Linked DNA regions of Homo sapiens. The protein of the gene in region 1 purifies or fractionates together with the protein of each later gene. This does not show direct contact. Each region holds a gene or a part of one and is shown on either strand. Other genes may lie near its edges.

Region 1 (4,391 bases):
CCCCGAGCACATGCCTGCTAGGTGGAGGGTGGATGGGGCCCCCAGAAATGGGTGGGAGCAGTAGAAACCATAGGACACAAAAGGACAGTAAGAAATTGTCATGACTGTCCCCAGAGTGGATAAGCAACCCTTGCATGTTGGACATAATCACCAGGAACTGAACAGAGAGAGCCTCTTAGGCCCATGTCTGAGCTGGTAAAGAGAAAAATGGGATGCTAGCACTCCCGCCTACCCCTTGGCTGTCGCTTTGTCATAGGTGAGCAAACAAAGGAGAACAGAGCCACAGAGAGGAGCACTTTGTGCTTAATCCCTTCTGGGAAAGCTGCAGGCGATCCTGAAACCACGGCAGCAAATAATCTCCTTAAAGGTCTTCCGCATCTCTTGGCTGCGGAAGGCATATATGAGAGGGTCCATCACGGAATTACACATGATGAGTATGAGGTACATATTGAAGTGAGACATGAAGCGAGAGCAGTAGAGGTTCTGAGGGCAAGAAAGCATTAAAGTGAGATGAAGGAAGAACGGGGCCCAGCACACGGTAAACACGCCCAGCAGCATGGTGACGGTGACCGCGCCCTGCATGCTGGTCCTCTGCCGCGCAGAGCTGGCCCCGGGCAGAGCCGCGATCCGCTTGACGTGAGTCCGCGCCAGGAGGAACATGTGTATGTACAGAGACACCAGGAGGAACAGCATAGCGAAGAACATGGAGATGAGGCACAGGATGACGTAGGTGGATTCTGAGTACAGGATGAAGACAATGCCGCAGCCCGTGCAGAAAGCCCAGATGCCGGCGATGATGGCCCCTGAGCGCCTCGCCGTCATGATGTGGTGGTAGCGCAGGGCGTAGAAGATGGTGACGTACCTATCCACTGCAATGGCCAGTAAGCTGCACATGGATGCCACCACGGAAATGCAGATCATGGAGTCAAACACATTGTCAATGTGGCGCACAAAGGCGTCTGCTATCACTAGGTGCTTGTTGTTGAGTAGGTAGATGGTGATGGTCTCCCAGGCACTGGACATGCTCACCAGCATGTCCGCCACTGCCAGGCTGCACACGAAGAAGTACATGGGGGAGTGCAGGTTTTTGTTCTTCACTATGGCCCCTATGACCAAGATGTTCTCCAAGAGGCTGATGACACCCAGAGTGAGAAACACCTCCACAGCAATGCCCATGTCTTCACATGGTGAAGACTTGTTTTTGACATTGGGTCCTGAAAGGTTGCCCTCTGTGGCATTCAGGTTGAGATCCAAGAAATGCAGGTGAAATGAGGAATTCATTGCTGGAGAAATACACCTCTTGTCTTGGCAGCAAATTTACTGTAAAACATGTTTTAAATTCACAATCCAAAGAGGTTAGCAGCCTACCAAAGAAAGACAGCAGCTAGCCTAGAACCAACACAGCCTAAGAAAGGGGATGAATGACACAGTGCATCAGAGGACTGGGCTCGGCTCACTCAGTCCTTTTTTTTTTTTTTTTTTAAGAGACAGGGTCTCCCTATGTTGCCCAGTCTGGTCTCAAACTCCTGGCCACAAGCGATCTTCTCTCTCAGCCTCCCAAAGTGCTGGTACTACAGGGGTGAGCCACGTGCCCGGCAGCTGGCTTGCACATTCTGACCTGCGTTCCTGAGACCTGGAAGAGTGCCCCTGGACACGCAGATTAGAATCTTCACCAGCCTCTTCTGCTCTCCTTGCTTTCAGCTCCCAGCCTTTCACATGCATCTTACTAGAGAGACACTCACCTCCAAGTGCCCAGGACAGTTTCACTTTTTATGGCTTCTCTCCTGGGCTCAAGTTCACTATCATAAGTGTCCCCAACTCATAACCTACAAAATCCCAGCCAGTCTCCCAATGTTCACATTCCTAAGGCTACTGCACGACATTCTCCTCAAGGGAGCTCCGATTTAAGACTGCCCAGACCCGTATTCCCTTAAGACAGACAGACAGGTGCATCCCTAACACTTGTCCTGACACTTCTTAGACCCATCAGGATTCAGCCTCCACAGCTGTAAGTAAGGCTATAACCAGAATGGTCTGTTACCCTGAGCAAAGTCACATGTTAAAAGCTACTGTCTTAAGTTTGTAAGTGTAGGCTGCACATACGTGTTAAAATTGAGGAAAACAGTGCTGCTTTTCCCTCAATACCTATTTTTCCCTCGCTTCTGCATTATGTGGAATTCCATGAGGTCTGCTTGATAGTTTATTAGGTCCGCGTGAGCACAGTATTTAAAAAAAAAAACAGCAATTTAAATGTACCACACTCCTTTGTTGCAAAATTTCTCTCTTATGATTCATTTTCAAAAATCCCTTTGCCCTCCAAACTCAGATCACATCTGGAGAGAATTTCTGTCATCACTGTCATCATTAATATTTGTAATCACTTTGGGAGGGAGGGAGGGGGTGAGGGACAACAAATTACTTAATAGGTACAATGTACACTATAGGGGTGATGGCTACACTAAAAGCCCAGTCTCCACCACTATGCAATACATCCATATAACAAAACAGCACCTGTACCCCCTAAATCTATAAAAATAAAAAAGGAAAAAATTGGTAATCTAAGCATTTATTGAACTACAATCATTTGTTACAGCTGAGTTCCAGCTCAGATATATCGGTAAATTATGCAATTATACTAAACATCATATCGAGCTGTGTTAAAAACTCACGGGGCAAGCTAGCTGCCGCCCCGCTCACTTCCACATGCAGCGGAAGCGCGATTTTGCATTTATTCTCAGGATCTCAAGGAGATAGAAAGTTGTGGCTATTTACCGGTGCTCCTCCTCGCGGGCCGCGGCGCTCAGCCCGGGCCCCCGGCGTCCCCGGGATCCGACGGCCGTGCGGCGCTCAGAGCCAGCCCCGGACGGGCCTCTCCCCCAGCTAGGCGGCTGCGGCTCTGCGGGGCTTTAAGCCTCCTGCCTGCCCGCGCCGGGCCCGCCTCCGCACCGCCGGCTGTCGCTCCGGGCGGCCTCCGCTGCCACCTAGTGGCCCAGCACGGCACAGCGGCCAGAGAACCGCGTCAGCCCCGAGCGAAAATCCCCCCGAACACACTCTTGAATGGTTGGATGGTTGCTTGGTTGGTTGGTTGGTCGGTCGGGTCGGTGGGTCGGTCGGTCGGTCGGTCGGTCGGTTGAATGGTTGGTTGGGTGAGTGGTTGCTTGGTTGGGTAGTTGGTTGGTTGAGTGGGTGGGTGGGTGGTTGCTTGTTTGGTGATTGGTTGGTTGGGTGAGCAGGTGGTTGCTTGCTTGGTTGGTTGGGTGGTTACGGGTTAGTTAGTTGGGTAGGTGGGTGGTTGCCTGATTGGTTGATTGGTTGATTGGTTAGGTGAGTGGATGGTTACTTGGTTGCTTGGCTGGTTGGGTGGGGGGTTCGTTGATTGGGTAGGTGGGTGGTTCCTTGGTTGGTTGATTGGTTGGTTGGGTAGGTGGGTGGTTGCTTGGTTGGTTGATTGGTTGGTTGGGTAGGTGGGTGGTTGCTTGGTTGAGTGAGTAGATGGTTACTTGGTTGCTTGCTCGCTTGCTCGCTTGCTTGGGTGGGTGGGGGGTAGTTGGTTGGGTAGGTGGGTGGTTGCTTGGTTCGTTGATTGGTTGCTTGGGTGGGTGGGTGGTTGGTTGGGTGAGTGGATGGTTGCTTGGTTGGTTGATTGGGTAAGTGGGGGTTGGTTGGGTAGGTGGGTGGTTGCTTGGTTGGTTGGTTGGGTCAGTGGGTGGGTGGGTGGTGGGTGGTTGCTTGGTTGGTTGGTTGGGTCAGTGGGTGGGTGGGTGGGTCGTTGGGTGGGTGGTTGCTTGGTTGGTTGGTTGGGTCAGTGGGTGGGTGGATGGGTGGTTGGGAGGGTGGTTGGTTGGTTGGTTGGTTGGCTGGGTCAGTGGGTGGATGGATGGGTGGTTGGGTGAGTGGTTGCTAGGTTGGTTGGGTCAGTGGGTGGGTGGATGGGTGGTTGGGTGGGTGGTTGCTTGGTTTGGTTGGTTGGGTCAGTGGGTTGGGTGGATGGGTGGTTGTGTGGGTGGTTGGTTGGTTGGTTGGTTGGGTCGGTGGGTGGATGGATAGGTGGTTGGGTGGGGGAGTGGTTGGTTGGGTCAGTGGGTGGGTGGATGGGTGGTTGGGTGGGTAGCTGCTTGGTTGTTTTTCTGGCTGGTTGCACTTTTTGTTTCTTTTCTCTTCCTCTTGAGCACTGATTAAAATGCTCCCGAGCTCAAAGAGGGCTTGTCACCCCGTTTCTCCTGGACAGTGGTCTCTGGGATGTCCTGATGATTGTTCTTTGGGAAGGAGGCCCAGTGCCTGGGAGCCCTCATCTGTGGCCCTACCACGCCCCTCTTTGCCCAAGGCTCTCACCCCTCCTCCAGGACTACACATGCCATGCCAGGCTTTATCAACCACACAGGCTTTCCTTA
Region 2 (3,817 bases), on another chromosome or scaffold:
ACAGGCAGCAAAAGTTGCATAGTGGATCTTGCAGAAGATACTCAACAGAAGTCCACAACTTGTCCAACTGCTTACTCCTGAAATTTATGATATTTTCAGGATTTCCCAAGTATCTTTGTTAACTGTGACTATTTTAGACCAAAAAATCCTGACTTCTTTGGGAGAAGATGGTTGCACTGCGCAGCACGGATACCGAAGGTGATAAGTCAATGCAGCCTGTGTTCAATAACTGTGTTTGAGCACCTACTGTGTGCAAGACACCGCACACTGTGGGGTGGGCAGAGATGCCTGAGACAGATCAGTACTCCACAGACCTTCCCTTATAATGGAGAAAGGAAGACAAAGTGACAAATAGCAGTAACATAAGGGAAAATCTGAATGAAATGTCAGCGGTAACAAAGATTCACTGAGCAGTCACCAGTCATCTTGAGCTTCAAGATTCTTGAAGCAGCCCCACTTCAAGAGCTTTCTGAGGTTTCTTTCGCCCGCATCCGTCCCCACTGCCTCCAGGGCACAATCCTCAGGGAAGCTGAGGCAAAATCACCACCACCCTTCCACCCCACTTCTGCATCACTCTCCCCTTTCCCTTACCCCTTCTTTCCCATCCCAGACATGGACTCCACAAAAAAAGACTCCAACCCCACATCATCATACTGTTCAAAGGATGGGCCCAAAAAGCCTAAAATATTTACTTTCTGGTATTTTATAGAAAAAGTTTGCCAATCCCTGCTCTAGAGCCCTGAAAAATCTGAGCTTCAGTTTTCCCACTAGTAACATGAAGATGATTATAGTACCCACTTCATGGAGTTGCCATAAAAGTTAAATGTGATGTTGCATGAAAAATTAAGAAAAATATTAGCAGGCAGCACAACTATTATTAATTAGAAATGCTGATCTTGAATAGAAAAGCCTCGCTTTGTTCTTCAGACACACCCAACTCCCTGGTCAGCCAATTCTTATCAAATGCACCAAGTGTTAATTGATTGATTCAAGCAATCTACCTGCCTCAGCCTCCAGAGTGTTGGGATTACAACTGTGAGCCACGGTGCCTAGACAAATAAATAAAACTATGACAAAAAATTACTTAAAGGCATTTAGATCATTTAAAAGTTAAAATGATCAACATTTACATCCTGGGATTCATGCTATTCTACCAACTCAAAAATAAAATGATAATCTTTCTCTCCTTTTTTTATTAAGGAAAATAAGATGAAGTCTGGTTTGATCATATCATTTTTAGTAGAAATCAACATTACAGCTACTATAATAGCAGAGCAGAGGGAGGGACTAAACTTCATCTGGAATAGAAAAATAGGGAAAAGTACTTAAAGGAATAAAGAAAATAAAGATGGAGGGTGTCGTCTATTCAGCACACCACAGAACCGAGAGCTGTTCTCCCACGGCCACGCAGTTCTCAATGTCAGCACACGGTGGGGACCCCCATTTGTGGCTACCAGGTTCCACAAGACCAGTCAGAAAGCAGCAGTAACACCACCCTCATGGGGCCGGTCAGTGTGTAAGAGTTAACTGTAAGGAATATCAACCACCCACCCTACAATAGAGACATGCCTTCTTTTACTCCCCCTTACACTATTCCCTTTCATCTAAACGAACTATTTAGGGATGGATTACTAAAGGGCATTACCAAAGGGTAATGAAAGCTACATGTGCAAAAGTCCTGAAGGTGGGAAGAGAGGAGCAAAGCTCTGACAAACACTGAGAGACAAGAATGAGTGAATACCAGAGCCAGCCTACAGGAGGTTCTCATTCTGCAGAATGAAATGTGACACCAGCTCTCCCCAGGCAGCCACCAGTTGCCTGGGTAGCCTTCAAACAAAAGGAGGGGCATTTGTCTCCACTGCCTCTTTCCTCTCACTTCTTGAATCCCAAAGATAGCTTTGGAGGACAGAACCTCTGACCTCTTCTTTAAAGCAGTCACCTAGTGCCCTTGAAAAAGTCCACAAGGCATTATTTTTTCATGCAAGCCTCAAATTAATCAGCTTAGGCCATCAGATGCACAAAGACCAACAACAAACATACGGCAGTGCTAGGGAAGTGTTCTGTGTTGTCCCCATTACCAAGCCCAGCAATGACTCTCCAAGCTTTGCTGAAACATAAGCTGGGAACTGCCAGCATGTCCAAGTAGCAGCCCCCAGAGTCTGCTATTCCCGCCACAGTGTGCATGATCTCGGCCACCCACGCAGTGAGGGAGGCAGCCTGGCCCTGAGCCTCACTCCCTGGGGTGCTGACAGGCCGGCAGCTGCTCTCTCTTGAACACAACAGCAGGAAGCGGCAGCTCCACGGGCAGCTGCTCTCTGTATGGCTGCCACTCCTGAGAACCACCCTCTCCGCACCGAGATTTTCTTAATGTCAGATTTCTTCATAAAATTAGAGTCATGAAAAATAACTTCTTTGACAGGAAACATATCCTAAACAAGCTTCCAGGAGCATGAGGGAGAGACTAAATTGCTCTTTTGAACAGCTGAAAGCATCACTGCCAACAAAAGCAAAAATGAAGATTAGGACTGCATCCGAAAGCTAGCCCTGAAAGGAAGCTTACCTTTTCCAGGTGTGCACAGGGTAGTGTGGCCCAGGCCAGCCCATTGTTGGGGAAGACGGGAGATCACAAACCCAAACAGAGAAAGCGTGGTGAGCAGGCCCAGACACCTCTCATTAAACCATCACCCCTTCTCCAACCCACATTCCCATCACTTTCATCCCTTCTTTGGACTATCCAATCTTTCCTGCTCCAACCCAGGTTCCCACACCACTCCTGGGCACTCTCTTTTCCTCCCCGCTCCCCTTTTTTTGAGACAAGGTCTTACTCTATTGCCCAGGTAGGAATGCGATGGTATGATCACAGTTCACTGCAGCATTGACCTCCCTGGCTGAAACGATCCTCCTGCCCCAGCCTCCCAAAGTGCTGAGATTACATGCATGAGCCACCACACCTGGCCTCTTTTCCTTCTTTTATTTTGAGGCGAGTCTTGCTCTGTCACCCAGGCTGGAGTGCAGTGGTGCAATCTCTGCTCACTGCCACCTCTGCCTCCTGAGTTCAAGTGATTCTCCCGCCTCAGCCTCCCAAGAAACTGGGACTCCAGGCACATGCCACCAGATCCAGCTAATTTTTGTATTTTTGGTGTAGACAGGGTTTTGCCATGCTGGCCAGGCTGGTCTACAAACTCCTGACCTCAGGTGATCTGCCTGCCTGGGCCTTCTAAAGTGCTGGGATTATAGGTGTAGTCACCGTGCCCAGTCCTCTCTACCTTCTTAAAAATGGATCAAGCAATTCTCTCCACCTCCCTGAATTTGAGGAGATGTACTCAGACATAGAACTTCTCAAAGAGTGAATAAATGTCTTTGTGTCAATATCCCTGGTGGATTACGATGGTATGCATGTTAAGGGGGCTGCTTCTTTGGAGTTAGACACTTTTTTTCCATGTTAAGGGGTAAACATCAGCAGATGAGTTTTACAAGTGACCACCAACCCAGGCACAGGACTAGCACATTAAGAAGAAATCCAAAAGGTGCCAGAAACCCTGAAAAATGAGCATGCCCCCACACAAACATGCACACAACTGACAGCACAGCTACTAAGGCATTCCAAGAAACTGCCAGCCAGTGCCACAAATCCAAAGACCTATGCTGACCAGTTTGTACAGGGGAAGACCTAATGGCCAGTCAGATGATCAAAGTTCCCAATTGCAATGACTCTCTCACCTTCCTCTTCAATCCTCAAACTCCAAAAGTAGGCATGCCACCCAGGACCACCAACCTCTGATCTGGCCCAGGCCAGAAAGGTCTTTTCAGTTACCTG

The links.
Region 2: the proteins of MC5R (region 1) and MRAP2 purify together in Homo sapiens (co-immunoprecipitation; one study listed by IntAct). This does not show direct contact.

Annotation. Positions count from the first base shown.
Region 1 is NC_000018.10:13,822,656-13,827,046, reverse strand, and holds the start of MC5R (melanocortin receptor 5), read right to left. Parts: upstream 2,899-4,391; 5' UTR 2,773-2,898; intron 1,321-2,772; 5' UTR 1,282-1,320; coding exon 304-1,281; 3' UTR 1-303. UniProt on the Homo sapiens protein: Receptor for MSH (alpha, beta and gamma) and ACTH. The activity of this receptor is mediated by G proteins which activate adenylate cyclase. This receptor is a possible mediator of the immunomodulation properties of melanocortins.
Region 2 is NC_000006.12:84,050,716-84,054,532, reverse strand, and holds part of MRAP2 (melanocortin-2 receptor accessory protein 2), read right to left. Parts: exon of another isoform or gene 3,815-3,817; intron 1-3,814. UniProt on the Homo sapiens protein: Modulator of melanocortin receptor 4 (MC4R), a receptor involved in energy homeostasis. Plays a central role in the control of energy homeostasis and body weight regulation by increasing ligand-sensitivity of MC4R and MC4R-mediated generation of cAMP.